4 separate regions of the Homo sapiens genome follow, and regions 1, 2 and 3 are each linked to region 4. The links come from fine-mapping of genetic effects on gene expression. A gene starts in region 4. Each other region holds a variant in brackets. All regions are shown on one strand. Distances are between the middles of the regions. Region 1 overlaps PTPN14 (protein tyrosine phosphatase non-receptor type 14). Region 2 overlaps PTPN14 (protein tyrosine phosphatase non-receptor type 14). Region 3 overlaps PTPN14 (protein tyrosine phosphatase non-receptor type 14). Region 4 holds the start of PTPN14 (protein tyrosine phosphatase non-receptor type 14).

Evidence for each region.
Region 1: its variant is fine-mapped to the expression of PTPN14 in pancreas (GTEx, PIP above 0.99). The same link has a PIP of 0.9 or more in skeletal muscle and stomach.
Region 2: its variant is fine-mapped to the expression of PTPN14 in cerebral cortex (GTEx, PIP 0.96).
Region 3: its variant is fine-mapped to the expression of PTPN14 in tibial artery (GTEx, PIP 0.93).

The regions. Positions count from the first base shown.
Region 1 is chr1:214,435,130-214,443,236 of GRCh38, forward strand. All of the region lies in intron 3 of PTPN14 (protein tyrosine phosphatase non-receptor type 14), which reads right to left. Among named protein-coding and RNA genes, the nearest start is that of PTPN14, 110 kb to the right of the region's middle. RefSeq lists enhancers at 4,019-4,990, 4,305-4,644. The variant A/C (reference allele first, on the strand shown) is at 4,669.
Region 2 is chr1:214,455,144-214,463,250 of GRCh38, forward strand. The region is part of intron 2 of PTPN14 (protein tyrosine phosphatase non-receptor type 14); the gene reads right to left. Among named protein-coding and RNA genes, the nearest start is that of PTPN14, 92 kb to the right of the region's middle. The variant A/G (reference allele first, on the strand shown) is at 3,988.
Region 3 is chr1:214,367,599-214,375,705 of GRCh38, forward strand. It overlaps PTPN14 (protein tyrosine phosphatase non-receptor type 14), which reads right to left. Exons shown (of 19, transcript NM_005401.5): 16 at 5,113-5,241; 17 at 1,859-2,093. Among named protein-coding and RNA genes, the nearest start is that of SMYD2, 90 kb to the left of the region's middle. RefSeq lists an enhancer at 2,079-2,579. The variant T/C (reference allele first, on the strand shown) is at 3,632.
Region 4 is chr1:214,548,141-214,556,247 of GRCh38, forward strand. PTPN14 (protein tyrosine phosphatase non-receptor type 14) reads right to left here and starts at 3,462. Exons shown (of 19, transcript NM_005401.5): 1 at 3,043-3,462. RefSeq lists enhancers at 2,125-2,946, 2,947-3,767, 3,768-4,588.

The DNA.
Region 1 (8,107 bases), 110 kb before region 4:
CAAAAGTGAAATTGATTCCCCCTCACCTACTTTAATGCTCTCTAATCAATTATTTATATATTGGGCCAGGATGAAAAGAAGTAAAATGGTTCAGTCCGGTAGTGTGTCTGCTGTGTGTGTGTGTGCGTGTGTGTGTGTGTGTGTTGAGATAAAATGCAAGTATCACAGAGCAACAGGCAACAATATCCGTAATTCAACCCACCATTCTTCTTTAGATGTTCAAAGCTTTAAATGAAGTTCTAATCATATTCTAGTTATAATTATGTTATAATTATACAATGTCCTAAATTAGAAAATAATCATTTTAAACCAGAAAGGAAAAATGCCTGCTTTAGAGTATAATGGTTAAATAGTTCATGAAACCCTTTAAAAAAAAAAGTATTCAGTGAACTGGGTGTAAACAATATAGATTTTCAAATTAACAAGGAAAAAACAAACAATCCCATTAAAAAGTGGGCAAAGGACATGAATACTTTTCAGAAGAAGACATATATGTGGCCAACAAGCATAAGAAAAAATGCTCATCACCACTAATCATTACAGAAATGCAAATCAAAACCACCATGAGGTATACACCACCTTACATCAGTCAGAATGGCTATTATTAAAAAGTCAAAAAATAACTGAGAAAAGGGAATGCTTATACACTGCTGGTGGGAATGTAAATTAGTCATGGTAAATCAGCCATGGTAGAAAGCAGTTTGGCGATTTCTCAAAGAACTTAAGGCAGAATTTCCATTCGACCCAGCAATCTCATTATGGGGTATATACCCAAAGCAATATAAATCATTCCATTATAAAGACACATGCACATGTACGTTCACTGCAGCACCATTCACAATAGCAAAGACATGGAATCAACCTAAATATCCATCGGTGGTAGACTGGATAAAGAAAATATGTTACATATACACCATGGAATACTATGCAGCCACAAAAAATGACAAGATCATGTCCTCTGCAGCAACATGGATGCAGGTGGAGGTCATTATCCTAAGTGAGCTAACATAGGAACAGAAAACCAAATACCGCATGTTCTCACTTTTAAGTGGGAGCTAAACATCTAGAACACATGGGCACAAAGAAGGGAATAACAAACACCAGGGCCTACTTGAGGATGGAGGGTGAGAGGAGGGTAAGGATTGAAAAACTACTTATCAGGTGCTATGCTTATTGCCCGGGTGATGAAATAATCTGTACACTAAACTCCCGTGACACACAATTTACCTATATAACAAACCCACACGTATACCCCTGTATCTAAAATAAAGTTAAAAAAAAATACAGTTTTCTTTTACCTGCCATTTGCCAACTTGTGGTGGATAAAATATTTTGAAACCATATTTTTTCAAGTAAGTGTGAGATTTTTGGTTAAAGACAGTTAGGGCTGGGTACAGTGGCTCATGCCTGTAATCCCAGCACTTTGGGAGGCTGAGGCGGGCAGATCACCTGAGGTCAGGAGTTCAAGACCAGCTGGCCAACATGGTGAAACCCCTTCTCTAAAAAAATTAGCTGGGCATGGTGGTGGGCGCCTGTAATCCCAGCTACTGGGGAGGCTGAGGCAGGAGAATCACTTGAACCCGGGAGGCGGAGGTTGCAGTGAGCCGAGATCGCACCATTGCACTCCAGCCTGGGCGACAGAGAAAGACTCCGTCTCAAAAAAAAAAAAAAAAAAAAAAAAAAAAGGTTTGTCAGAATATTAGCTCTCAGGATAATGCTTTTCAAGTACTCTTAACAAGAGTCAGCACATCACAAAATCATGGGTGTGCTTGTATGCATGCAAATGCAACACACAAAATCTCTCAATGTATATAGTAAGGAAGTAGTCACAGATGTCTGGAAAATTAAGATAACTGCTATCTAGAACCAAGCCTCTCTGTATTTTTTTTTTTTTTTACTTAAATATAGTGTACTTCTAGTTGGTAGTTGAAATCAAGTATTTCATGAACCAGTGCCAGAAATAATATTTTTTCAAATAACTGATAATGGAAAGAAATAATGTTTTCACAACCTTGAATTTTATTTGGCTGAAATTATTTTATTTTTTTCTTAATTTACCTATTATTTCATCTTACACTTACCTAAATGCAGTAAATATCAATAAATCAGACAGTGGCAAAAGAATTACTGAAATCCATATGTAGAATTCTCAGTTTTGCAAAATTCTCACTTTAAAAATTAAAATTCAATCTGTAACTTCAAAGCCTGCAGAAACAGTGGGAAGTTGTGTTTAAGGTTTTAGGGTCCTAGAGTAGTATAATTCAGGCCAGTTTTTATTATTCTTATAGGAATAATAAATTTAATAATAAATAAAGGATGCACAAAAGGCTAAATTCTTATGCAATAAATAGTATTTAATATATCCCCTAAACCTATTTAGGAGATGTATTACTCATTATATTATGCATAATCTATTGTGCATTACAGAAGTTGAACTACCTAGAAGGCTAAAATATTCTGAAAGAGAGGAAATACAATCAAACTGTACAAAATTGCTACAGAAGAACCTTGGATTCTCCATTCTGTTCCTTCTAGGATCCCCAGGAAGACGCCCACAATTTTTCTACTAAATAAGACCACGCCATCTATTCTCTAAATTCCTCAGCCTGAACCAAATGTTTTAAGCTTTGCAACTCTTTAATTCCTTCCCAGTTCCCCAAAATCCCCCCTGAGATTCTCCAACATCCATCTACTAACAGAAAAGACCAGCTACAGCTGAAAAGACATCAGGATACAGTTGTCTTCCATTTAACCAAACTTAAATGATAAGAATCACCCATGGCAATGATCAAAAACAGATTTTGATTCAGGGAGTCAGGACTGGGGTACAATAACCTACATATTTTTTAAAATGCCATAGGCAATACTGATGCACGTAGTGTGAAGACCACACTCAAAGAACCAACAGGCTCCCAATGTCTTATTTTTATTTTTTAAATAACTGTCACTCATCAGGAGTCTATCATCTCTTTAAATAATCTTTCACTGGAATCTGTTTATCTTTTCAGACTACAGTCTCTTCAAGTTACAAGTACTGTGAGATTACCATTGGGTCAGCCTGGCCCGTCCTGTGGCAGCCAACCTGGCTTCCCTGTTCTGAACAGCTGCTCTGACCATCTGGGAAGCTGTGAGGCAAGGCCCGCTTTATCCTGTCTCCTTGCTCGGGCCTGATAACCTTAGCCTTCCTACACTCGGCACAGGACAAAGCACCAGGCCGCGTCCTCTGCAGCAGATCTGCTCCCTCATATGGGACTGGAATGAGGGTGGGGAACCTCCCTGGGAATACATGTCTATGATAATAACACAAAATGTTTGCTTAAATTATTGTTTGCAATTCCACTTTTGGGAATTGCCTGAGGGAATTAGGGACAAATTTGAAGTTATCTTCAATAATATCAAATCATTTGTTTTGAGGGAGTAATTCTGAATTTTGGAAATCGCCAGTCAGTACAAAATTTGTACTCAGTAGAGTTTCTAGTAGGGTATGGTTTACAGTGATTTGGGTTTTACTAATCATTAATAATGTACGAAGCCTCACAGTGGCATTGTAATGTCTCAACCTGACTAGGCTGCACTCCATTTCCCAGAATGTTCTTCCCCTATGTTTCTGGTTAGTGTGGGTCACAGAGAATCTTCTGCCAGGTGACTGATACCAGCACAGCTCTCTGAGGGATGCAGCAGTTTCCTGCTACCTTCTAGTATATCTTTTCATTTAAAAAAAACAAATATTATTTGAAGACCTACTATATGCTAAGCACAATGGCAAATGCTTTCTGAACTCATCCTTACAATAGCTATGCTAGCATCATCTCCTGATTCTAAACACAAGAACTTAATTTTGGGGAGTTTACAGAGCCTGACCAAGAAACAAACACCAGAGAGTGAGGTCTTCAAGTCTGTTCTCCTTCTTTTTCCTTTTTTTCCCCCTACTTCCCACATTAATGTATGTTCTCCTTTGTAGTGTTTTTTTTATTGTTTTATTTCCAGCTATTATTTTCCTTGAAGATTAAACCAAAAAATACTAGTTCTTTGCTGATTCCAACAATCATTCAAAACATACAGAGCTCTAGCAGATACATAACTTGCTTCAAATTTTCCATCAGTATCCTCATCAGTAGCTATCTTTTCACAGTTGGCCATTTTATTTCAAGGATCCAAATTACCGACCTTTTTCATGTTTTCCTTAGTTAGACCTATGGGTTTCTCACATTAGTCACTGTCATAAACATCTATCTTTTCTACCTTCTTCAAAACATTTATGCTGGTCAAAAGCATTTGCTTCCAACATTGCTTCATCTCTGTGATTTTCTACTAAAGGACCATGTGTCTAACTCGCATTTCAGTTAAACTTACGTCAAAGTTGCTGGGATTTGCTCTGAATAACGGTAACTCATTTTTATGCTGGCAGCAAACGTCAGGCGAAATGTCTACTCACTCTCCCCAGCTGCAAGCACAAGATTGACGAGCTGACCTTGAGAGTTAGGAGGCTGTAAACCGAAACATGTTGCAACATGTCCCGCTATGATTACGCCTCCTCTGCTTTTACAAAGTACACCAGAAAGCAGTATCATTATTTGAGTCACACCTGGTAACTTGACACCTGCTGACACCTTTCTACTGTTTACTTGCAATGTCTCAATTTTCCACCCTTCTAAAGGACTCAGTGTC[A/C]TCTGAAAGCTTGGCACTTTCACTATGTGCCCAGGGCTGGAGATCACTGATAAAGACGTTAAATAAAACCCATTTTAGTTCCACTCTCTACATAATGCTCGCTATTTAAAGGACTCACTCAAAGAAGTGCCTGTTTCCCTCTACCCTTTGTTTCTTCTGTCTGAACTACTTCCTTCTCTTTGACAAAACTCATCCCTTCCAATTCCACAGTGTGTCTTAGCTGTTACAGCTAAGGGGAGGGGAGGGGAGGATTGGCAAAGACTTTTTGAACGTTTAAATAAATCCTATCTATGGGCTCTCCCATGTCAGCATGCTTGGTTCACCTAAAACCATTCCAGAACCACCTTAAGAGCCAGGCTTGTCACTAAACAGCTGTGTGACTATGGGCAGAGTCCCTTTATCTGTCTGTTTCTCAGTTTCTTCATCTGTAAAACAAAGCAACTGGTCTCTGTGATTTATTGATATGTGGGGTCTCATATTTAGATATAAAACTCTATCATTCTGGTCTGTCTTGATATAAGGCAAAGGGCTCTTTCTCAAATAGGCTGTGTTTGTTTAAGATTTGAATGATGTCTTTATTGGCCTATAAGACGCTTGGTACTCTTTCTATGCATGAACCTTTTATGGGTAATCAGAGATGAGACAGATATTGTGAGCAATAAAGAGAGGAAATCTGAATAATTTGAGCCATGGCTCTGCAGTAGAAAGTTGACAGGGACATATAATCTAGCCCTCCGGAGTGATCTTTACACAGAAATAAAGTTTTCAAATGAGCACTTAGGGAAGTTATACTCTCACACTCAGCTCAACCACCTACAGTCTCTTATAGGCAGCTAAAGTGTTAATACAGCTGGACACTGAATGACATAAAATCAACTGGGTCAATGAAGAGATATGGGCTGACCCAAGTACTGAGATGCACTTCAAGTTATACAGAAAGTGCAAGTATCGGCAGTCAGGACCTAAATACCTACAAGGCCAGACAGGTCACAAGAATGTGTAAATGCTGCTGACTATTAACTCCCTAGGGAGTGGAGAACTAGGCCCAGTTAGACAGCACATGCCTCTCTGCAAGGCGTCCCAATTCAGTTCTTTCAAAAATGATCCTGGTGAAACAAAACCCACCTGAAGACCAGAATCAGCCCTCATAGTACTAGTTAATAATCTCTGATCTTACTGGTAGGTCAGCCCTCTGGATTTCTTTGTTGACTTTTTATGGAACTAAACTCCCTGTTACTCTGATAAAGCCAGTGAAGAAAGGCATGAACGGATGTATTTCTCTGGCAAAGTAATATAAAAGACTCCATTTATGTGATGACCTAAATCTACTCCACTTGTTAGAGAAAAAACTTCTGTTATTTAAAAAACAAACAGTTCTTTTTCAGGGTGCCCACTTTATAGAGTTCTAGTGAAGACTGAAAAAGATAATAATCTGAGATACTTAGCATAGCATCTTGCACATAAATGTTAGCTGCTACCATGACTACTACTGTTACATTATATCCGGTGATGGAACGCAACTACATTTTTCCACAGAACCACACAGAACTATAATATCCTCAGGCTGGGGAAGTTTTGAGGTTTTGGATTCTTGTGCTTTCTAGATTCTGCTGCTGCTCAGACACTGTAAGTTTCTTTAACGTGTGGATGTAGCACATCTGTCACTTCCTTCCTCTCCACCCACTCCACTCCAACTGAATGTCCCAATGCTGATATTCAGGAAAAAAGGTAGAGCAAACAATTATAAAACATCTATTCTTTGCACCTCTTCCAACGTCAAGATTTTTTTTAAAATCCATTTTTGAAATTGACACACCATTCTCAATCCCACCCATTGTAATGATACCCCTACAATCTTGAGAATCCTTTATGGGAAGCGGATGTCTCTTAAAAATTCATAAGGCACAGCCTGCATGCTTCAACATGACAAAACACCTCTTCATATAGCTTCTGTTGTTTTTCCCCCTTCTTTTCACACCTTTGTTAAAGGTAAACACTACAATGTGGCATCATCGTATTCTACTCAAGCTTTAGAAAAAGTAGACTATTTTAACATTTTGACTCATGCTCTATTACAAATCTTTATTATTTCATGAGTTCAATTGTTTAATCTTTCTCAGTCCTGCAATGTAACACTAATAAAGAACAATTTGGAATCAATGAATGAATGAACAAATGAATGAATGTATCTTTGAAAATCAAGGAATTCACAAAGGATAAAAATCAATACCTCTGCTTAAGAACTTATTTTCAAAATAGCTCAATAGCACATTATTTTTGTTTGCTTTTGAGAAAAGTTCCAAATAGACCAAATACTAACACATTAACCATGTGATTTAAAGATGTAATAATAAAATTATCACTTCTTTGAAGTATACTAAACAGGTTAGTACCCCTTATGCAAAATGTTAGGGACGAGAAGTGTTTGGGATTTCAGATTTTGAAATATTTGCTATACTTACCCAGTAGAGCATCTCTCATCCAAAAATCAGAAATCCTGAATGCTTCAACGAGCATTTCCTTTGAGCATCATGTTGGTGCTCAAAAAGTTTTCAATTTTGGTACATTATAGATTTTGAATTTTTGAATTAGGGATGCTCAACCTATTTTTTTGGTAAACTTTGTTTTTCTAATGGCTAAAACATACGTATAAGCATATCTTGCTTTATAAAGCATCTCAATCAAACATCTCAGATGCATTAAAGAACACAAACATTACATGAAGACTCCTTTTGAAATACGAATAATGCCTCTGATTTATTTCCTTTTGAAATTCTGAGTTTCCTCTTCATTATAGGACACCTACAATAAATAATAAGTTATGCCAAGTGATATTACAAAAGAACACTGATTTATTTTACTATTTGTTTTCCCTAAAGGGAAAGAATATCAGAGAAACAGCTAGATTATGTTTACGGCTAAGTTAACTTCGGCTAAGTTAACTTCATCTTATTTGTCTATACTTCATTGTTCTAGTAGCAGTAGGTTGCCTCAATAGCTAACTACCTAACTGCATAGCTTTCTTTTTTTTTTTTTTCTCTTTGAGACGGAGTTTCACTCTTGTTGCCCAGACTGGAGTGCTATGGTGCGATCTCCGCTCACCACAACCTCTTGCTCCTGGGTTCAAGCGATTCTCCCGCCTCAGCCTCCTGAGTAGCTGGGATTACAGGTATGTGCCACCATGCCAGGCTAATTTTGTACTTTTAGTAGAGACAGGGTTTCTCCACATTGGTCAGACTGGTCTCGAACTCCCGACCTCAAGTGATCCACCCGCCTCAGCCTCCCAAAGTGCTGGGATTACAGGCGTGAACCACCGCGCCCAGCCTAACTGCATATCTTTCACACCATATCTTTTTCTTAAGAGCAAAGAAAGAAACAAGAAGCAACTTCATGTATTTGGACAACTTGTACTATGAAGTAGGCATCTACTGTATAGTCT
Region 2 (8,107 bases), 93 kb before region 4:
AGGCTCTCATTTCAACTAGCATGTGCACCAATCAACTTCCTGTGTATTATCCAAGGAACTACTAATCCTGTCAAGCCCAGCTGAGACCCCACCAGGCTGGTTTGTGGTTAACTTGCCAATTTAAACTCTAGCTCAATTTTGAAAGCTGAGCTTAGCTGCTAAACATTGCCACATGGTTGAAGAAAGCATGGTGGATGATTGCAAATAGAAACCACCTTCTCCATGACACCAAGAGGATCCCATCATATTACCTGAGTAAATGCCTGAAATATCTGTTCTGTTTATATCTCAGGCACCAAAAGTAAGCCAGACTCATTTAATCCTCATGATACCTCCTCTGGGTGAGGTATGAATCCCATTTTATTGCTCCAGTTTTCTTAAGAAAACTAGAACACACAGCTCTGGTGCCATGAGTTCTGCAATAAGTTTACTGCAATGATGAGAAAAGAAGACAGAAGAGCCAGTCCTCAGACACAAGAACCACATCCCTGAACCACTTACAAAAAATGCACTACGATGAAACCAAGTAGGGAAAGCCACACTAAAATGTCATTTTTATGTGAGCAGCTTCCTCATTTATTTGGTTTGGTGTACTGCATTTTAACACAGGAAACATACATTTAAGCATATACTAAAAAATCGGCTAGTTTCTTCAGTGGCAGGTTGGTGTGTGGATACTACAGCGTCAAAATGTCCATCTTTTGGTATTATGGAAAGATTCTAGAGAATAAGGGCCCTTAAAAGTAGTTTTGAGGGCAGGGGACATTATGGGAACTCTCCGTACCTTTTGCTCAATCTTGCTGTGAAACTAAAACTGCTCTAAAGAAATAAAATCTATTAAAAAGTAGTTTGGGGTGGTTTTTATTTGTTTGTTCATTTATTTGTAAAGAGATGGTATAATCCCCCACCTTAGCTATTAAAAGGGAAATATTTTTTGAGGGTTTTGTTTTTCCAGTTTTGTGACAATGGCACAGACTAATGCTATTTGTAAGAGGTTTAGATGCAGTCTTGGCAATTACCAAGGATTAAAGCCATGATCTTATCTCAAGCATTTTGAAGAGTTACTCATCCAGAAGCAAAAGTTTAAAATATCTTGCATTAAGTTGTAATAGGTTGCCTATCTTACCCAATATTTCAGCTGTAAATTAAGAAATGGTGTGCTTCCACATAAAATATATGAATTACATATTATACAAGCACGAACAGTTTCACTGAGGCATGGAAAATACTTCAAAAGATGACTATAAGCAGACTCTGAAATAGCACTTCATGCAATTACATTCCAATGGCTTTGGAAAATAAGCCACTGTACATCAGTTGGATAACGGTAGAAAAGAACTTGTGTGTAATCAACCTCTACTCTGGGTAGGTCTGAGATTTCTATAACTGACACATCTATAATTAACAACTGCACCCTCTTCATTTTCCTAGCCAATCTCTTTATAAAAGTACATGAAAAGAAAATGCAGAGTAACACAGACCCAAGAAGCAAGTCCCATAGCCAAGAAAAACCACTCTTCTGAGACTGTACGACTCACCTAGAATACACAGAAAGATGAAGACGTACAAGTTAAGACTGGCGAATAGTTCACCCACAATCTCTATACCTAGAAAATGGAGATGCCGGTGCCATTACATTCTAGGATTGACATTAAGCTAATAATGTTTCACACTGTCATTTTTACAAAGACAAAAAGCAACACAAAACTTAAAGATGAGAAATCTCCCCCAGCAGTCTACTCTTCAGTCGATTCTTAATCAGCATTGATTATTTTAATCCTTTGCAAATACACATATATACTGACGTGATTAAACAAGCTATAAAATACAGCAGAATTCCACTATTATCTGCCAGGGCATGAGGTGTTGCATTTAATTGAGTACCCCCCAAATCCCACATAAATTATTAATTGCCAAAAGATTAGCATGAAATCAAACCACAGAAATATTCTTCATGTAAGTTAACTTTTATGTGATAATAGGAAATGCATGTTAAGTTTCTTATCTTTATAATCTCTAGTCATTATGAAAATAGCAAAATGTGGAAAATTTCTACTGTAGTGATAGCTTTGGGTAAAACAGCTTTTAGTAAAGATCAAAATATAAATTTGCAAAAGAAAAAGGGGATAAATTAGAGGATAAGGACTTACTCTTTGAAATGATTATAGTTTGGTTTTTAAAAGCTTTTTTACACTCTTTTAAAAACCAAGGCTCTTAGGCTTAGCCTTAGGAGAGAGCCGAGAGTTATGAAAGTCACCATTCTCCAGAGCGCTGGATTTCCTCACAGCAGTTCTCTACCTCAAATAGGGTTTACCAATGAACTGAAGGGTATCTCAGGTGCCTTTGTTATATCATTTATCCTTCTTCCACTTGTTAAGTTAAAAGTAGAGCCAAGGTTATTCTAGCATATTTTTACATTTTATTAGGATGCTTATACTCACTATTACCATTAAATGCCCCCTTTGCGTTTCTTAGAATAGCACTGTTCAGCAGAAATCAAATGTGAGTTACATATTTAATTTTAAATCTTCTAGAAGCCACATTGATTTAAAAGTACCAAAAGTGAAATTACTTTTAATAAATATTATTTAAAACACGTTCAAAATATCATTGCAACCTGTACTCAAACATACATATAATTAATGAGTATTTTAGTTTTCTCATACTATGTCTTCAAAATCTGATGTGTTTTTACACTTACCACACATTTCAGTTCAAAATAGCCACATTTCACGTGTTCCATAACCACATGTGGCTACCATATTGGACAGCACAACCTTAAATTAATCCTAGCTGTTCGAGGAACTGAAAGACTTTGCTATTTTAACTCAATATAAGATCACAGTTTCATCTATATCTATATCTATATCTATATCTATATCTATATCTATACCTAGAGAGAGAGAGAGAGATAGAGAGAGAGAGACAGAGAGATTCACTCTGTCACCCAGGCTGGAGTGCAGTAGTATGTTAATAGCTCACTGCAGCCTCATTCTCCCGAGCTCAAGGGATCCTCCTGCCTCAGACTCCCAAGTAGCTGGGACTACAGGCATGCATCACCATGCCTGGCTAATTTTTTATTTTTTTTGTAGAGATGGATCTCACTATGTTCTCAGGCTGGTCTTGAACCCCTGAGCTCATGTGACCTTCCATCTTGGCCTCCCAGTGTTAGGACTATAGTTGTGAGCTACCAGGCCTGGCCCCAGTTTCTAATAATTAAAGTCATCTAAAAATGGAACAAGCAGACTTACAAAAGGGTGACAGCCCAGTCTCTGGAAGTGTCATGGCAGAGGCTGGATGGCTTGGGTGGTGTTTTGCAAAGAAGGCAGCCACATCGAGTGCTTCCTATGCCAGGCACTGTGAGACTGTGGCAACTATGAAAAACTAACTCTCTGAATCCTCCCAACAATTTGTAGAGGTGGCTACTATTACCATCTCCATTTTACAGATAAGAAAACTGAGGCACAGGGTACTTCTATTTAAGGTTACATAGCTAGTAAATGGCAGAACCAGGATTCAAACTCAGGCAGTTTGGTCCAAGCTGACATTCCTAGCCACTAAACTCTGCTGTGTTTTCATGTACTTCTTTTTTAAACCGTGAGAATTAGTCATAAGGCACCATTGTTTTAGCTCTTTTTCCCTTAACCTAGGCTAGTTATTTTCAAACTGAGATAGGGCTCCAGATATCCTATCTCCTCTGTAAAAGGCCCAGCTCCATTTACACATCCATGCTCCACCAAAGATTTGCAGAAAAGGGTTAAACCCACTGATGCAGACATATTATAATGACATTATTGGAATTCTGATTTTCTGAGCTTCCTATATCTCTGGAATTGTCTTTGTTAATAGAGCTCCCAAGCAGCAACTTATCCCTGATTTTTCCCTCATCTTTAAAACAATGAAAACACACTTTTCCTAAGCAGTTCATCTCATGACCTCTTGCCAGGTTTACAGTTGTGCCCACTGGCATCTCTGTTCCTCGCCTCC[A/G]ATCCCCACTCTTTTCTTCTTTTTTTTTTTTTTTGAGACAGAGTCTCACTCTGTCACCCAGGCTGCAGTGCAGTGGCACAATCTCAATCTCGCCTCACTGCAACCTCCACCTCCCAGATTCAAGCGATTCTCCTGCCTCAGCCTCCTGAGTGGCTGGGATTACAGGCATGCACCACCTTGCCCGGGTAATTTCTGTATTTTTAGTAGAGATGGGGTTTCACTATGTTGGCCAGGCTGGTCTCGAACTCCTGACTTCAGGCGATCTGCCCGCCTCAGCCTCCCAAAGTGCTGGGATTACAGGCATGAGCCACTGTGCCCAGCTGATCCCCACTCTTTTCTTTCTTTTTTTTTTTTTTTTGAGACAGTATCTCACTCTGTCACCAAGCTGGAGTGCAGTGGCGCGATCTTGGTTCACTGCAACCTCCAACTCCCTGGTTCAAGTGATTCTCCTCCCTCAGCCTCCCAAATAGCTGGGATTACAGGCATGTGCCACCACGCCCAGCTAATTTTTGTATTTTAGTAGGGACGGGGTTTCACCATGTTGGCCAGGATGGACTCGATCTCCTGACCTCGTGATCCGCCTGCCTCGGCCTCCCAAAGTGCTGAGATTACAGGCGCAAGCCACCACGCCTGGCCGATCCCCACTCTTTTCTACTACTGAGTGCTACTGAGTTCTTTACCTAACATGCAAGGTAACTATGTCATGCTCCTCCTTGGAGTCCTCTGATGACCTTACACTTCACAGCAATGTTTTATTCCCCACATAGTTCAAAAGAGTATTTTCTGGAAGGCTAAGATAACTGTGAAACACTTACTGGAACACCGTTTTCTTTCTTTTACTACAGAATTGAGGAAAGAATGTTTCCCAAAGCATTTTACCATACTCCCTGCTCCCCCACTACAAGTCTCTGGGAACTGGAACAGTGGCGTCAGCTGCCAGGGTTTGAACCGGCCTCACAACTTACCAGCCCAGTGACTGTGGGCAGGTCACCCTATGCTGCAGCCTCCCCATCTGTAACATAGGAACAGCAAGAGTAGGGACACATCAGACTTGTTATGAGAACTACATGAGCTGATATATGGAAACTGCTCAGCAGAGTATATACAATCAAAAGGTGGTAATTATCCTTTGTAACTTATTTTAGAAATACTATCCTATAGATCTAGTTAAAACTCCCTAGGCAGACACAGCAAACCCTTCAAAAGCAGACTCCATCCTGCCCCTTCCTCCTTTACCCTCCTTCCCTTCCATGACCCTTTCATACACACACATACACAACACACACACACACACATCAGTGCAAACAAACTGAACTCTGCCTTTCCCTGAAAATTCCCCTCCACACACACACAGATCAATGCAAGCCAAACTCTGCCTTTCCCTGAAAATTCCAACACACACACACACACACACACACACACACAGATCAGTGCAAACTGAACTCTGCCTTTCCCTGAAAATTCTAACACACACACACACATACACACACACACATACACACACACACATCAGTGCAAACTGAATTCCGCCTTTCCCTGAAAATTCCATGTTCTTTCCTGTTTCTGTACCGCAGCACAAGCAGTTCCCCTTGCTTTGTTTCTTGTTTGTCCTGTTCTCTAAACTCTAGGAGCAAAGACCCTATCTGGTTTCTGGGAGCAGGGACCCTAGCACATTCAGCTTTCCCAGAGCATGACTGTTTGCTGACAATAGGAACCAGGCCTGGATCCTTCTGAAAGCCATGTTAAATAGCAGCATATCATATTTGTCCAAACCTACAGAATGTACAACACCAAAAGTAAGCCCTAATGTAAACTCCGGACTCTGCATGATAATGATGTGTCAATGTAGGTTCAATAATCATAACAAATGTACCACTCAGGGGGTGATGTTGACAGTGGGGGAGGGTGTACATGCACGGGGCCAGGGGTATATGGAAATTCTCTGTACCTTCCTCTCAATTTTACTGTGAATCTAAAATTGCTCTAAGAAATCAAAGTCTTAAAAGTAAAAATAAAGTATTAAAAATTATCTAATAAAATTTAGTGGCAAAACAATTAATGTAAATAAAAAATTTAATAAAAAAATTTTAATCCACCATACATCCTTTCCTAATATAAAGCTATTACAAAATTTATGATATACCTAAACTACTTCTAATGGCAAAGCCAAATATCCACCATAATCTAGTTTCCAAGACTTCATAAAGGCTAAACATATTACCCTGAGCACAGTGTCTCACATCTATAATCCCAGCACTTTGGGAGGCTGAGGCGGGAGGATCACTCGAGCCCAGGAGTTTGAGACCAGCCTGGGCAATACAGTGAGATCCCATCCGTACAAAAAATTTAAAAATTTGCTGGGCATGTTGGCATGTGCCTGTAGTCTCAGCTACTTGGGAGGCTGAGGTGGGATCACTTGAGCTCAGGAGGTTGAGGCTGTAGTGAGTCATGATCGTACCAGTGCACTCCAGTCTGGGCAATAGAGCAAGATCCTGTCTCAACTGGAAAAAAAAAAAAAGATTAAATATATTTTGGCTGGGTGTGTGGCTCACACCTGTAATCCCAGCACTTTGGGAGACCAAGGCAGGAAGATCACGTGAGCCAGGAGGTGGAGGCTGAATGAGCCATGATCATGCCACTGCACTCCATCTTGTGCAATAGAGTTAGGCCCCAACACCCCTCCCAAAAAAGACTAAACTTTTTGTTATATCTTAGATTGGTTGTCACCTTCTCCTCTAAAGCAGCATCGGCTCTATTTGAAAAATGACCCAAATACAAATTCAAGGTATGAGGAGCAGACCTTGAGTTCACCTCCTCTTACTTCTGCTTTTGGATAGAGGATGCATTCTTCTTTAAGGTGTGTGTGTGCAAAAGAAGAACAAAGTATCAGATTACTCTATCTGATCCTTTAATTCAGGAGTATCTAGAGGACTGATTCCCAAAAGGGCACAACTTCAATGTTATCTGTCATGGAAGGAAAGCATAAAATTCAAAAAGAAAGTGATTTGGTCGAATGCGGATGCACCCATTAGGACGTGTCAAAATAAAGTCAGTATTAAACACAAACCCCACCTCAGCAATGGAATGTCAATCACACTACGGCACACACTTGGCAATGCACTGCTTTATTCTTTGTGATAAGGTAGTTGTGGGATGATCCAGGGTTGACTTTTGCCTTCTCACTGAGAAAACCAATAGTCTGTTGAAAGCCATTATTACCATACACATCTCCACACACCTCCCACCATTTGTTATAAACTCTAGCTTGACCTGGTGATTCAGAGGGATGCCTTCTCAGCCCCCAAAATGTTGGCTGCTCTTTCACATCCTTGGATCTTTGATAATCCAGTCCCCCACACTAAAGATGACATGGCCTTCTTTTCTACCTGCTGGACTGATACATGTCCTTCAAGTTTTGGTTCAGAGTGAAGGCTATGTTCATCTTCCATCAACTCTTTCACTCTCACCAGCAAGACTGCAGTGTTCAGTGGGCTGGATTGCACACTGCACAACACTAAGGACAGCCATCGCCTTTTGGGCCTACCCCTGCATTCTATTTTAGCTTGGACCACATTTGATATTAACTGTTTATTTAAAGGCTGGACTCCCCTATTGTTCTGTGCATGTCTTGAAGGTAAAATTGTACCTTATTTATCTTCATTTCACCAAGTTCTAAAAAAGTGCCTGGCACAAGATGGTTGTTCAATATTTTCTTTAACAAAAAATGGGTTTTTTTTAAGTTGTTTATTAAGACTCTCAAATTTGAACAATTATAAATTATTAAACACAGCACTATACATTTTCCATACAGGAACTCTTTTAATATTTACAACAGCCCTGTGAAGTAAGCATTATTATTGCCATTTTATAGGTAGGAAACTTACGCCTCAAAAGACTCAGTAACTTTTCCATTGTCACCCAGCTAATAAATGACAGAAGAGTAAGCTGAACCCAAGACCAAGAGTCCAGTGCCTATACTTGTAACCACATGCTACACTGTCCCCCGATGCATATGAGGAATAATTAGTTGCTCTAATTTGAGTGACTGGAAGTACTTAAAAGTAAAAATACTAGTTTTCTATAAGAACTTAGACAAGTCTCTTCCCCAATCAGTATTTGT
Region 3 (8,107 bases), 180 kb before region 4:
AGGTCTTCCACTAGCTGGAGAGTCAACAACAGAGCAGGCACAAGGCTACAGGGAGCATCTGGGGCTCCTTTCCAGGTGGGTGAGTAAAGAACGGGGTCTCCTGACAAGCACAGGACAGTTAGATGAGCATGTGGAAAGCAAGAGGGAGAGCTGCAGCCACCGCTGAAAAGCAGAGGAGGGTATCAGATCTCATCTTTGGACGATGATGACTGGCCTGTCTTTCCCATTAGGCTCTGAGTACGTCGGAAGTGAAGACTGAACTCAGTGTCATCTCTGCATTCTCAGAGCCCGATCCAGTGCCTGGCACGTAGTGGGTACATGCCCAATTTTGGGTCTTTCAAATAAAAATACTGCACATAATCTGGTGAATTAGTTTCTAATATAACCACATTCTAAAAGTACACATACACAGAAATTAATGAATTAGCCATTGAGCAAATTTCAGTTTCAAAAACTACAAGAGGGTTTCAATACTTCTTAGTGTCTTCATAAAAATATGAGAAAGTACGAGAAAGTACTGAGATGCTCAACTGTAGGGAAATATAGGTCTTGTGAGATGCAAACCTTCATGAAAACAATTTTTTTAATGTTATTCGTTTTTATTTATTTATTTATTTATTTATTTTTGAGATGGAGTTTTGCTCTTGTTGCCCAGACTGAAGTGCAATGATGCAATCTTGGTTCACTCCGCCTCCCAGGTTCAAGCAATTTTCCTGCCTCAGCCTCTCCAGTAGCTGGGATTACAGACATGCGCCACCACACCTGGCTAATTTTGTATTTTTAGTAGAGATGGGGTTTCACCATGTTGGCCACGCTGGTCTCAAACTCCTCACCTCGGGTGATCCGCCCACCTCGGCCTCCCAAAGTGCTGGGATTATAGGTGTGAGCCACCATGCCCGGCCTATTTTTAAGTTTTATTTCTCCTTTTTTTTAAAATGTGCTAAAGTGGACACAACATAAAACTTACCAGTTTAACCATTTTTAAGTACACAGTTCAGTGGCATTAAGCATAGTCATAGTTGTGCAACCATCACCATCATCCATGTCCAGTACTTTTTCCCTGTCCCAAACAGAAATGTTGCACCCATCAAATGTAATTCCTGGCTGGGCACAGTGGCTCACACCTGTAATCCCTGCAATTTGGGAGGCTGATGCGGGCAGATCACTTGAGACCAGGAGTTCAAGACTAGCCTGGCGAACATGGTGAAACCTCATCTCCACTAAAAATACAAAAATTAGCTAGATGTGGTGGCTGTGCCTATAGTCCCAGCTACTTGGGAGGCTGAGGCAGGAGAATTGCTTGAATCTGAGAGGCGGAGGTTGCAGTGAGCTGAGATTGTGCCACTGCACTCCAGCCTGGGTGACAGAGCGAGACTCCGCCTCAGAAAAAAATTTGTAATTTCCCAATCCCCCTTTGCCCCAGCCCCTGGTAACCTCTCACCTACTTTCTGTCTCTGACCTTGCCTATTCTAGGAACCTCATATAAGTGGAATCACATAGTTTTTGTCCTTTTGTGACTGGATTATTTCCACTCAGCATCATTCCTCAAAGTTCATCCTTGTTGTAACATGTGTCAGAATAGTTACTGATTAAATGAGTAGCTAAAGGTCTGAATCAAGGTAGAGCCAATATGTTGATCACAGTCTTAGCTTACGTGCATGAAAGGTAAACAGAATAAGTGACATGTATTATTATACTCTGTTCTACATAGTAAGAAAGGAATATATATTTCAATATTATAATACTTTTGCCACTTAAGAGAAAGCATCCTCTTTTTCCATTTCATCTCCAACAGATGAATTATTGACACAGATCATAAAAGTCAGTCAGGTAGCAGACTGGGAAGAAAAACACTTACATAAAAATCCTTGGACATCTTCTGGACAGCCGTGATCTGGCCAGTCAGTATATTGTAAATGCCACACCGTCCTTTCTTGCCCAGACAAAAGGTGCTTGACCTTCAAGCCCGTGGTTGCATAGCAAACAGAATCCGTTCGAAACTTCGTGGTGACCTTGAACTTGCCATAGGTGGCTGAGCTGTGCTTTGAACCTAGTTTGGGCCAGTATCGGTGGCTTTTGGTTCGTCCACCCTCCTAAATCACATATAAAAGCAAAATTGGAAATAGGTCAAGGGAAGCTCTCATCCTTTTAATCCTAAGATATGAAGACAGAAGAAAATGCAAATAGCTTCTAAATCGCTAGTTCAGTAGCACTCTGCAGTGTCTACCACAGGGTAGATCCTATACATGCTAGTTAAGACCAATAACACAATTTACAATGACAGTTACATCAATGGAAAATTTAAAAGATTCACAACCGAGGTGCAGTAGAATGTTAGAGAGAAGTGCAAGTGCAGTCTAGAAGCAGGAACAAGCTTCGTGCATTCAAGAAACAAAGGTCAGCCGGGCGTGGCGGCTCACGCCTGTAATCGCAGCACTTTGGGAGGCCAAGGCGCGTGGATCACAAGGTCAGGAGATCGAGACCATCCTGGCTAACATGGTGAAACCCCATCTCTACTAAAAATACAAACAATTAGCCAGGCGCGGTGGCGGGTGCCTGTAGTCCCAGCTGCTGGGGAGGCTGAGGCAGGAGAATGGCATAAACCCGGGAGGCGGAGCTTGCAGTGAGCCAAGATCACGCCACTGCACCCCAGCCTGGGCAACAGAGGGGAGATTCCATCTCAAAAAAAAAAAAAAAAGAAAAAAGAAACGAAGGTCTTCGGGGTGGCTGGAGTGTGACATGTGAGGGGCCAGGCGATCAGAGAGGAGACTGGAAAGGCCTCACAGTCCATGGTGGAAAGTTTGGATTTCATCCCATGGGCACGGGAAGTCATTCAAAGGTTTTAAACAAGGCGGGAAGGGGTTCCAGCAATCGCTGTAGGTCACGTTACTCCTTTCGGATGTTCAGCGCACAGCTCTTTCTGTTACAGCACACTGACTACCGATGCTGTCTTTATCTAGTGTCGATTTCACATTTGTTTCAGCCTGACCAATGCGTTTTAGTTCAATCTACAACTAGAACTGAGAACAGCTGCTTACATCACCATTCTTTCTCCCTTGATTTTATAAACTTTTCTGAGAATATGTATTCTCAACCATTTACACAAGGTCTATGTTTCAGCTTTGCACCGTTTTAAAATCTCTGGAGAAGGGGCGGAGTGTGGAGGAGGTGGTAGCTGAGGAGATTCAGGGCAAGGAGTAGGTGGTGAGAGAGAAGGAGCACTGAACACATACAGCTGCAGTGGTGACAGGCTCTGGGAACCCTGATGGCTGTTTACAGGAACATTAGAGTTCCTCTTGTAAAGCCCACTTGTAAAGCAACACATCTTTGCGGAATATGTAAATTACCTTGCCTGGCTTCATTTGGTTTAATTGAGTCTCCTTAAATTGGAAGCATACCTTCCTCTTTTATTTACCAATCCTGTGAAAGCAGATTTACCTCGAATTTACATTTCTGCTGAGTGTCTAAATCAGTTATGGATTTTAAAAGACTATAAGTCCCCAGCTGTCCCACAGATTACTAGATGCTACTTTGTCTTGGCAAGGCTGGCTCCTTGTCACTCCGGTCTCACCTCCAATGCCACTCCCTCAGAGGGTCCTTGGCCACCCCCCTGATCTAAAGTAGACCCCAG[T/C]CACTCTCTTTCTTAACCCTTTTTCCATTTTTAAAAATTTTCTCCCTTGAATTTATGCTACTATTAATAAGGTTTTTACTTCCAGCCTTCCAGCAAGTGTGCAACATGATACAGAGCCTGGAGCTCAGGGTTGCACATCGTGAAGCCACCCTTTAGTAGGAGTCCCCTAGCGTGAATGACAGTTTTGCAGCTGAAACCCACACAAAGAGGAGGAGGGATGAGGCAGGAGGACCTGTACTCACCCAGACCCACTCTGGACTATAGTTTTCCATTTCTGCCACGGCACTTACTGCTATCTGCACTGATTTTATCTGTTCACTTTTGAATGTCCCTCCCACTAGGACATAAGCTCTATGGGGACAGGGATGGTGCCTGTCTCGTTTACCGTGTACTCCTGAAGTTAGCACAGATGGTATGCTGTATTTAGGTGAATGAATGCCTTGCAATGGTGTGAGCTGATAAGGTGATAAATCTATTCTAGAAGCTTTAAGGAGGATTCATTCTCTTTGTGGGAAGGTCAAACAGGTCAGCCCAGGGAAGTACAACTGGCTTTAAAGAGCCTGATGTCCCTTTCATTATTTTCTTCTAATGGACTGTGCTGAGAAGCAAATGCTCAACACAGTCAATGAAGGAAAATATGACTTTTTCCTCCCCAATTTTCTTTGTTCCTGACCCCTTTAACATAGCTAGGAAAGGCCACTGCAATACCATGGATATTGGTAAACACACATGAAACTAGTCCCTTGAATGATTTCAAAACATAAATTGGAATTTAATGAAAGAAATAAAAGAAGGTGGTTAAAGAAATTTTGAGAATGTGACAAGAGAAGAAATACAACACTTCTCCCCACAAAGACAGCAAGCTCAACACCGACTGGATTGACTGGCAGTGTAGGCTGGTTTTTTATAACATCACATAGAGTTCTCTAGTTACAGCAGAAAAACTATGTTTGGCTTGGCAAAAGAAGAAAAAGATATTTTTTCTTCCCCCAAAGAACAGAGGACTCTCCAGGAACAACGGCTTCTGGTCTCTTTTCAGCTGATAAGGATGATGGCATGTGGAGCTGGGTGCCTGGAGTTGGGCGTCTATGTCGATTTGCCCAGAGCAGCCTGAGACTCCCAAATTCCAGTGGAAAGATCACTGTTTTCGTTTGGCACAGAAAGTCAGCAGGTTGAACTAAAGTCTGTCATTTTTGGTTTTCTGTTGTTTTATTTTCAGTTTAGTGCATTACAATCCAAGGAAAAGAGTTAAAAGCCAGATGAAAATGGGAGGAGGAAAAGCTACAACAATCAATTATCTCCAGGGGAAAAAATATCTATCTGGAAGTAAGAAAACAGATGTATACCAAAGAGAAAAGCATGTGCAGAGAAACAGCACTGCAGGAAGAAGGATAGGGTAGCAAAGTTGACAGCACAAAGCCCATCTTCTGGCCACCCTTTCCCCTGGGGAAAAAGGATGTGGAGTAGGCCATTCCCCTTACCTCCTCTGCAGTGACCATGGCAATCACATTCACTCCCTGCTCCCACACCATCTGCCAGAAGTCGTGGCACGTGTGTGGCAGGGGCCCCTGGGTGGCTATGTAGTGCCATTCTGCCCCGCCAACCACCACCTAAAAACCAAGAAAAGTATCGGTAAATAAACCCCAAGTCCGGACAACATTACCTGCTGATCACCTGTCCATCTGTATCCACCTTAAAACCTTGGATATATTTTTGGGGCCGAATGAATTAGTTCAATGAACAAAAACCCTGAGACTACAGAGGCTAGTGTAGTGACACATTCTCACATGAAAATACTTTTTGCCACTCAAGCCTATTAAATATTTATCTAATCCTGGTTTTTGAGACTGAGTCTTGCTCTGCTGCTTAGGCGGGAGTACAGTGGCACGATCTTGGCTCACTGCAACCTCCGCCTCCTGGGTTCAAGCAATTCTCCCGTCTCAGAATCCCAAGGAGCTGGGATTACAGGCACTCGCCATCATGCCCGGCTAATTTTTGTATTTTTGTAGAGATGGCGTTTCACCACATTGGCCAGGCTGGTCTTGAACTCCTGACTTCAGGTGATACGCCCATCTCAGCCTCCCAAAGTGCTGGGATTACAGGCCTGAGCCACCAGGCTTGGCCTTTACCTGATCTTTGTTTGCAACTCACAGTATATGCAAACTAGTGCCTATTAAAAACCATACACATACACACATGTATAGATGCATATATATGAACATGTATAACTTAGGATTTACTTGTTACAGAAATAATAGTTACTGCTTACTATGTGCAATGTACTCTAACACTTTCCATTCTTTTCTCTTTTCTAGTCGATTTCATTGAAACACACACACACACACACACACACACACACACACACACACACACACACACCTGGTCATGACCACTAAACTGATTTCACATTCTACCACTGTGTTGTAATCCAGTTTGAAAAGCAGTGCTTCATGGCATCCAATTAAACAATAAAAAAAAAAAAAAAGATCATGAAACAACATCCCTTTTGGAGCACTATCTTTCTCCTGTGGATCTGAGATGAAGTGTATCATAAACCTCTGCTGTCACTGCTGCTCTGTGGTGCCATGCACGGCAGAGATGCTACGAATGCTCTTGTCAACAGCATATATTTTATCAATAGCTTCACCTTGGTAGTACCACAGCATCCAACTGAACTACAGTCATGACATGACTTTGGATAATAAAATTATTACCCCTGCAGCTCAGGGTGATCAGGGGAAGATAATTCTACAGCTATAAATACTAGCTGCTGAGAACCATAAATAAGAAGTTGTACCCAAAGTGTTAAAGGTCATGCTGTCAAGGTGAAATGGTGGCCTTTGGAGGAATTCTTTCTGTTCTCCCTTCCAGGTCTGTGCCTTGATATTGCAAAGTCAGGTCCCTTCTACATCTATACAATGCAGATCTCTGGAGAGTTCAAAAAGTAATGAAGTAATCATTGTTTGAAACTTTTTCCCCTCATTTATTTGATAAAACTGTATGCTAACTTGGTTCAAACAAAAACAATGTAAGTTATTGTCTCATTACACAAGGCATGTTTAGGTCAAAGCTGGCAAGAAAAATCCATTTTCCAAATACTGGTGGGAGATAACATTCATATATTTGCTGGCTAGGAGTTTGGTTTATCCGTGGAATTGTGATTTTAAACATTAGCCTCTCTGGCACCCAACGTATAGGAAACATAAATACTTCCAGAGAATGCTGCTGCTGCCTGGGGCCTTTCAGTATATTCCAAGTATTGACAGAAGGGTATTAAAAACTGCATTAAAAACACAACAAGCAGTGCTGCTGAGGTAGATTTCACACATGTGATTCCACCTCTGGAGCAAATAAATCTCTGTTCTGTGTTAACGGCTGCTTGGAACCCAGGGGGGAAAACACTGGCAAAATATACTCCTCTATTCCAAAACACAGGGACAAGTTCTTGCAAGGTCCACGGGTCTATGAAATGCACCCATGTCTAACCCGGATCCACAGGATGAAATGTGGGCCACAGAGAATACCAAGGAAGGGAATGCTCCTCGGTTAACAATGCCCGATGGGCACAGTTTATACAAAGTGACAGCTTTTTTCAGAGAGCAGATGGAAAATAGTGGAAGAGATCTGGCCAAAAGAAGAAGATAATATAATATTTCTATGTAAGATTTTCATAGACACTCTATCAGGAAGCAGCTGTGTGATCTGCATCTTTGTTGGAATACATTACTTTGGTCATTGTTTCATAATGTAAACTAAGCCCATGAAACCCACCACTGACAGTTTATTTAAGAGTTTCCTAGAGTTCACTTTTTACTTCTCACTCTCAAAAATCCAAGTTAAAATTAGTAATATGATCTATGATAGTTACTCTTTTATATTTCTTTTGACAGTACTTTCTAATTATTAAAAACTATGGTTATCTGTGTATATTAATAAAAATAGTATATACCCAACCATACTATACTTTTCCCATTCTGTATCAAAACTAGTTATAATTGATACACAAGCTAGATATCTAACTCGCCTTTTACAGGCTTAAAAAAACCTGTTAATAATTCTGCTACAGTTGAAAAGTCCAATGAGGAAAGTAAGTAATTCTAGACAAGGCCGAAAACAGGTTTCTAAGGCTATTGATCACAGTGGACTATCAATTGAACCTTGTGTTATTTAACAACACCTATAACACTGGCTTTAACATTAATAGATGAACAAATCTCCCACTTCAGAGTTCAGAGCAAATGGTGACATTCTAAATAAGTGTCCCTCTGTTAACAGGGACTCTGAGGAAGGTAAGCTATTTAAGAAACATTTAACTACAGGTACACATGTATCCATAAGTCAAAGTTTTAACTGCAGAAGTGCTAAACTATGTAATACTGACATATAAAGGTTTGAAGTATTTGAAATAACAACAAAAATTTAGTAACACAAATTCATTGACTAATGTGGCAAATCTTTCAAGATTCAATATTAACC
Region 4 (8,107 bases):
GATGAAGAAACTGAGGCTCAGAAGGGCTATGACGTCCATCCAACATCACACAGCTAAAAAATGGCAGCGCTAGAATTCCAACCTAGCTATATTTCAAACTCCCAAACCTGGACCGCCTGCTCCAGCACACTGACAGCCAGGAAAAGCTACAGAATTTGCCACACATACCCCTTGGACCACTCAATAAGCCCTCCATGGGATGCATACAGAGGAAGCGTAAATTAAATCAATTTAAATCCGTAAGGGGAGATCCAAAAGCGTATTTTAACATTAACTTGAACCTCCTCCCTACCAAAGCTTTCGTGTTTGTTTTCCCTCATTCCTTAATTGGCTAATTAAGTATTTCATCTTGTCTTTCTCATGCCTTATCTCTAACAAAGCTCACAGCACTGTTCTCAGGCTTAAAATGAATTTTTTAAAAACACAGCATTTGGTGACTAAGTAATGAAGCTCAAATGCAAGAATTTGATGAAATCCTTGTTCAAAAATGACAAGAATATGGAACCCAGGGGGGCTATAATATGTAATCAAAGGGTTGATGTTTGCTTCCCCGGAGCAAATTTAAACCTCTAATAAGGAAGGAAGGCACTGGAAAATAAAAAATCCTCATAGTTCTTGACACTTAGCCCATCCGTTCAGGGCAAATAAGAATTATTCTAAAAATTCTGATTTTTCTCTGAATTCCTTATGGTGCTTCCCTATTAAAAGCCTAACTGTCCTTTCTATTACAGCTACCAGCATGACACAGTATGCACAAATCTGAATAACTCAAGTGTTAATAATAATTACATGTTTAAGCCAATGATGGAAACTGGGCAAATGTCTGGGATTAGTGGGAGTGGGCTTCTCTTCAGCCATTTCTCTCATGCAGGTCCCTACACCTTCAGGAAAACTTCTGTGAAGGGGCTGTTCCTGAGATAAGAAAAGATGCTGGTAGAGGGGCTTGGATAAACACCCAAAGTTGTAGGAAGTCAGTGTGTTCTTCCCACTCTGATGTACTGGCCTGAGGTCACCAAAAGCTGGATGTCTGCCACCTCAGCCAGGACTCAGCCACTATGAACAATACTACAACACCACTTCAGTCCAGTGAAGAGACACCCTTGAAAGGCAAACCACGTACAGAATGCTACTGCATTGTAAGAAACTTTTCTAGGCAGGATTTGCTGAATCCTGGGCCATTAGTCTACAAAAATGTGCAAGATAGTGTTTTCTATTTTCATAAAGTTTCAGAGAAAAGAACGACTTTAGCACAACTGTGCTAAAGCAATAGTAATGACTTAAAAGCAGAGAAAAGTATAACAAACTTAGTGACATACAGATGAACGAATTTTGCACCTCATGGCCACCCATTCAGACTGGGCAAAAAGGGCATCATGCCATTCAGCTCCCGCTCATTAAGGCTGTCATTTCTATGGCACAAGCTTCAACCTCATCACCAAACAATTAGCTAACTTTATAATACAAGGTCCGTAATGCTGCGGTATTACCACACCTACGGCTGTCAAACAGCCTTTTTAAAAAAGGAATCATTGCTTGAATGTGGGGGACAAAAAAGAAGAATCAATACCATTTTAATGAAACCGAGCATGGGCCAATTAAAATGTAGATGATCATACAACAGCTGCTTGTGGTAAAACAGCAGCAGGCATGGAGGTGTATCCAATTAGGGAGGCCTTGGCTCCTCGGTAAGCTACTTGTGGTTCCCATAAGTGGCTAACGTGCTTCTAGATTTATTTCTGATATTGGGGGTGGAGAGAATGCTATCCCAGCAACACTGCACCAACATGGCCATAAATGCCCCTCAGGCCCCCAGATGGCTAGGGAAACTTTCTGTCCTTCTTGTGTTCACTCTGCACGAGCTGTTTCCTCTGCCTGGAATACACCCTCCAGAGGAGCACAACCTCTATCCTCTAAGTGTAGTGCACCCTTCACCAGGACCAAGCTCGCCTCAGACTCTCACAGAACCCCTCTTCCATGTATTATCATTCTTCACCGGCCTTCAAGTTTCCTCCACTAGGCTGCAGACTCCTGCCCTGTGATCTCATTTAGCATCTTTCTATCCTGTTCCTAGCAGAGTAGAAGCTGGGTTTGTTGGATGAATGAGTAAACTAATCCATTTCAAGAAGTTAACACATTGGTGGAAACTCTGTAACTGCCCGCACCTGCAGTCTAGAGATTCCTCACCTTCACAAAGAACCTGCGACAGCCAGTCCCTAGACTTAAGCGGAAACCCCACAATTTCTGAAATTGTAGGTGGGGATGAGAAGGTTGGAGAACAAGAACCCAAGGAAGTGAGAGGGAAAGGGAGATAGGGGCAGCGTTACCTCACTGCTCTCTCCAAACGAAAAGGTGTAAACCCCATTTACAAGTATTCAAACCTGAGATCTGGGGGTCACGTGGGGAAGGAGAGGCTGTTAATACCTACAACTTTGGAAGTTTGAGGTGAAGACCTGATCTGAAATTGTTTGGCCACAGCTTTTTTTCTACGAGCCAGCTCGACCACCCAAGTAGGAGCCTCGACGCCCAGGAGTTCGGTGGCACCACTGGGGCCTAGTGAGAGGGCAGGAAAACTCCGCTCCCCTCAAGATTCCTTCCCGGTGGTGGTGGGGTGTGATTGGGAGCGTCGGGCAGCTGCATCCCCCTACCGCTGCAGCGACCGCGACGTCGTTCGTCTTTCATCCTCTAGCCCCCAAGGTCTAGGTATCTCTAGTTGCCCTTCCGAGGCCCTCTCTCGTTCCCAAAACGCAGAAGGGAATGGAGAGAGGGGACCAGGGTGTGGGTTTAACCACAAACTCCCCAGACTGCGCTCACCTTCCAGCTCGCTCCCGGGACCAGCTTTGCGCCTCACCGCGGGCAGCTCCCACCGCGAGATAACACCCCTGCGGCCCGGCCACCCCGCGCCCCAGGCTGCCCTGCCAGGCGTCCCGGGGCGCCAATCGCAAGTTGGCGTTGCCAGCGTCTGCCCAAGTCATCTGCAGGGCGCCCGGAGCGCCAAGGCGGCCTCCAACCTCGGGCCCAACTCCCGGCTTGGACGGGGCTTACCTGCTTACATGGCCCCCGTGGCGCCCCGGAGTCCCGCGCGGAAAGGCTGTCCTTCGCGGCGGCGGAGCCGATTCCCCACGGAATTGATTCCAGTGACTGGCGGAGGAGGGGCGAAGGGAAGGAGCCGCAGGAGGCGAAAGGGGAGGGAGGTTTCCGCCGCGATCCCGGCGCGAGAGTCCGAGCAGAGGCGCACCGGGGGAGAAAAGGAGAAAAACCTAAGCACGGGGCTGTCCCGCCCGAGGAGGCCGGGGAGGATGGCTCAGCTGGGAGGGGAAGGAGCGCCAGTGGCCACTTGATGTCTGTCTAGGGCTCCCCGAGGACCTGAGCCAGGAGAGCAGGCGGCTGAGCCCGGAGAAGCACAGCAACCTGCCCCCGAGTCTGCGCCCGCTGCGCTCACTCCGCCGAGAAAAAGTTGGAAAGAACTTTGAGGGGCCGGGAGAGCCAGAGCGGCAGGAAATGCGAGCGGCCGGGAGAGGAGGGAGGAAGGGGCCGTGCGAGTGGGAGGGGACGGAGCAGGCGCCGGCGGCCACGGCTCCCCCACCCCAGAGCCGGGCTCCGCGGCCCTGGGGGCCGGGAGGCGGAGGGAGCGCTGGGCGCGCGGCCGGGGGCGGGGAGGAATGCGGCCCGGGAGGGCGCGCGCCGGGGGCGCCGCGGGCGCGCGCTGAAACGTGGAGCCCCAGCTCCCGAGCTCCCGAGCTGGAGGCGCGCCGTCCTTGGGGACGTCACAGCGCTGGAATCCGAGGAATGCCGGGCTGCAGGAGCTCCTTCTGCAGGCCCGGAGAAGTCGCACACTTTTAATGGGGTAGTTTTGGAAAATGTTTTAAAAGGTGGGGGCCGAGGACGGAGGACCGGATGAAACTCCCTGGAGTAAGAGACGTGGAAGTGGAGAGAGCAAGGCGACCGCAGCCACCCCAACCCTGGGCTGCTCCCGCCGTTGGGGAGAAAGAGGCAAGGCAAGGAAGAGCCCACCTAGACTTCCGAGGACCGCAGAGACGGGGCGGCGGCAGGAACTTGCTCACCCCGACCTACATTCAGAATAGTCCACCTTATATTGGGGAACCCTCCAAGCAGGACGTTTCATGCAGCCACCCCACAGGGGAAAACAGACCAGGAGAAAGTAAGGTGGCCTCACCAAGTAGGCAATCTCAGAGATCTCTCCCTAGAATCTCTGGGTACTGGACCCGGTGTCTTAGCCTTCTCTCCCTGCCCCCTCCCGCCCCGTAGGAATGATAAAAAGCAGCCTGTGTGCTGAGAGTTGGAAAATGTCGTTTTCCCGGTTTGTTCCATGCCACAGAATCGCCCCACCCTGCCTGGGTAGGCACTGGGAGGGAACTTCCTTAGCACTTTCGGAGGTGGAGTTAATGAGACGCAGCTGGTATGATGGAAAAAGCTCGGAGCCAGGCGACTGAACCTGGGTTTTAGGCCCTGCCCGATTGGATAACTGAGGAGTATCCCAGCCCCTGAGATCCTAGGTTTCTGTAGCTGCAAAATTAAATAATTTGTCTAGATTTCTGTGGTCCTTTGCATTGCTACAAACATGTCTTGGGATTTATCTCGGTAAGATTCCAGTCCTTTGTTGAAAAGGGACCTTGAAGTCGTTGGCACACAATGTATTGTCCCAAATCACTTCAGTGTCCGGCAACTCATGCAAAAATTCCTGGCCTCTTGGGGAAGAGAATTGGAAACCAAAAAGCGCGGTGGCTCACACCTGTAATCCCAGCACTTTGGGAAGCCAAAGCTGGGGGATTGGCTGAGCTCAGAAGTTCGACACCAGCCCGGGCAACACGGTGAAACCCCGTCTCTACTAAAATTCAAAAAATGTTTCGGGGGTGGCGGCGTGCGCCTGTAGTCCCAGCTACTCTGGGGCTGAGGCAGGTTAATTGCTTGAACTTGGGAGGCGGAGGTTGCAGTGAGCCGAGATCGCGCCACTGCACTCCAGCCTGGGCTACACGGCCAGACTCCTCTCAAAAAAATAAAATAAAATAAAATAAAATAAAATAAATAAATCCGTAGTGACTCTGATTTTCTTCGAGCATCTGCCAATCTCTAGAACTGTAAATTAGAGAAAACGCCGAGTGCAATGCAAAAGTGATGGAAAGAAAAGGTTGAAGGGAAATCAACTTTCTCACATTTTAAAGGAAATAGCTGTACAGACGTGCTGGGTTTCCAAAGAAAACATTAGGCAGTGCCTGACTGTGTTCCAGAAAGTGTGGAAAGCACTCCCCCATTCCTAGATGAGGAAAGTGAGGCATGAAGAAATTACCTGTCTCACTGAGGGTCATACAACTAGGAAGATATGATCAGGGCCCTAGTCTGTCAGGCCTAAAGTGCATGCTCTTCATCTCTTTGAAATTGGACCCAAACAGGATTAGGATTAAAGATAAGAAAATGCCTTCAGGATCTCAATGTAAAACTCTGGCCTTTGCTCTTTCCTGGGAGATGGGAGACCTCTTGCTTGGTGTCTTTTCTAGTGAAAAGACACTAGGAAATATATTGTGTTGCTCTAACATCACTGTGCTACCAAACTGAGCACAGCACCCTGAGGCTGTTGTGGCATAAAAGAAGCAGCAAAGGACTTGTTGTCCTTCTTGGGCAGACACAAGGGTTCCGGTTCTGCCTCTGACCAGCCTTGGGACCCTGATCAAGGCACTTCACCTCTAGGCCTGAATTTATTTTCTAAGTAGAGTGTGGCAAAGAGGGCAGAGCTTGGTTGGAATAGTTCATCTCTGAGGTCTTTCCCAGGACTAAACTTCCATCAAAGTACTCTTCTCCAGATAGATGGCATGCCTGTGGAGGAAGCTAAGCAATAAAGCCAGTGGATAAAGCCAGTGTCTGGGGACAGGACTGTTTTCACACCGCCTTCAGATGAAAATGAATGTTGAGACTCCAATGAATGTGGCTGAGTGTTCAATGATAAGTAAAGCTAAGATTTAGCACTAACCCTGTGGACACATTTTAAAAATTTAGATAATTTTACTTACAGGAAGACAGTCTGGGCAACATGGCGAAACCCCAACTCTACACAAAATACAAAAATTAGTCAGGTATGGTAGCTCGAGGCTTGTAGTCCCAGCTACTAGAGAGGCTGAGGTGGGAGGATTGCATGAGCCTGAGAGACCGAGGCTGCAATGAGCTGAGATCACACCACTGCACTCCAGCCTGGGTGACAGAGTGAGATCCTCTCTTGAAAAAGAAAAAAAATATGCGTTATTAACTTAAAAGCCTATAGAGTGTATCTGACTAGCCATATTTCTTTTTCTTTAGAATAGATCACAGAAAGGCAATACAAATAAGAATATTTTCTAAGGCCGGGCGCGGTGGCTCACACCTATAATCCCAGCACTTTGGGAGGCCGAGGCGGGTGGATCACGAGGTCAGGAGATCGAGACCACAGTGAAACCCCTTCTCTACTAAAAATACAAAATTAGCCAGGCGTGGTGGTGGGCGCCTGCAGTCCCATCTACTTGGGAGGCTGAGGCAGGAGAATGGCGTGAACCCAGGAGGTGGAGCTTGCAGTGACCCGAGATCGCGCCATGGCACTCCAGCCTGGGCGACAGAGCAAGGCTTCGTCTCAAAAAAAAAAAAAAAGAATATTTTCTAAATAGAAAGTACAGCTTGAAGTGACAAAAACCTTTCATTCTCAGGATAAATATATAAAAGCTAGTTTCAAGCTTCTTTCAAAAAGAAAAAAGAAACCCATTTCCTAAATCTTTGTCACACTCAAGTCTCCTTATACTACATCAGGGTGAAAAGGAATTCGACTCATGGAATAGGTCCTGAACACATCACTACATGTTTGCTTTAAAGCTTTGCAATTGTAAGAACTTATCAATATTACATTTCTCAAAGCAATTACCAGATTCTTATAAGCCCAATTCAAACTACAAATACAAAGAAGAATCCCGTGGGCTTCCACAATTCCTCCCAGCCCCAATGTGTTCCTCTCATTAATGCATTCATTTTACACCTTCAAAGATGCTGAAGCCACTGAAAGCAGAACAAGTTCCCCAAATCAAAGCCAACTGGAAAGTAAGCCTGCTTTGTTAAGAAAACTCTGATGATCTCTAGGGGCCTTTTACAAATTTTTAAGTTTTATATGTACATGTATGTATATAGTCCAGCTTAATTCCAATTCCTAAAAGGATGTTTAGCAACTTGGAGTAATGGAGAGAAGTGGGAAGCTTTTTCAAATATACATCCTCTCTGAATCCTCTGCTTCTGTATCTTATGCCCTGGGTCTAGGGTAGAGATGGGTTATGGTGGGAGTTGGGAGGAGTGTAATATTTTTAGACAGTGTTTTAGGAAGATACAATTCACATTCAATAAAAAGCACAACTCTTAAGTGTAGATGCAGCTTGAAGACCTTTTCATGTGTATACATGCATGGGGCCACCACCCAGGTCAAGATATAGAAAACGTCCATCTCCTCAGGAAATTCCCTTGTGTGACTTTTTAGTCAGTATCACCCTTCTACCACCATGGATTTGTTTTGCTGGTTATTAAACTTCATATAAATGGAATCATATTTGTGTGTGTGTGTGTGTGTGTGTGGTGTGGTGTGTAATACATATAAATTTGGAGGAGGAGGAAACACCAGAGCTCCTCCTCTCTACACATGTGAGGACACAATGAGAAGCCTGCAAGCCAAGGAGAGAGATCTCACCAGAAACCAACCCTTACAGCACCTAATCTTGGACTTTCAGCCTCCAGAACTGTGAGAAAATTAATTTCTGTTGTGTAAGCTACATAGCCTGTGGTATTTTGTTACTGTTTCGTTATTGCAGCTCAGTCAGACTAATACACCGAGGTAAGTGGTTGCGGGGTAAGTGTGTGTGTGTGTGTGTGTGTGTGTGTGTGTGTGTGTGTGTGTGTCTGCTTTAACATGGAAATAAACTTGAGACTTCAAGTGCCCTGTATTTATATGTGTACCAGGCCATGCAGTACCTAAGTACATGATAGAGCCAAGATTCAAACCTGGACCTTTCTCATTCCAGTTTGTGTTCTTTCTATTCCACCTTGTTGCTGTACAGATTATTCAGCACTGCTGTATGTCAGGAATAGCATT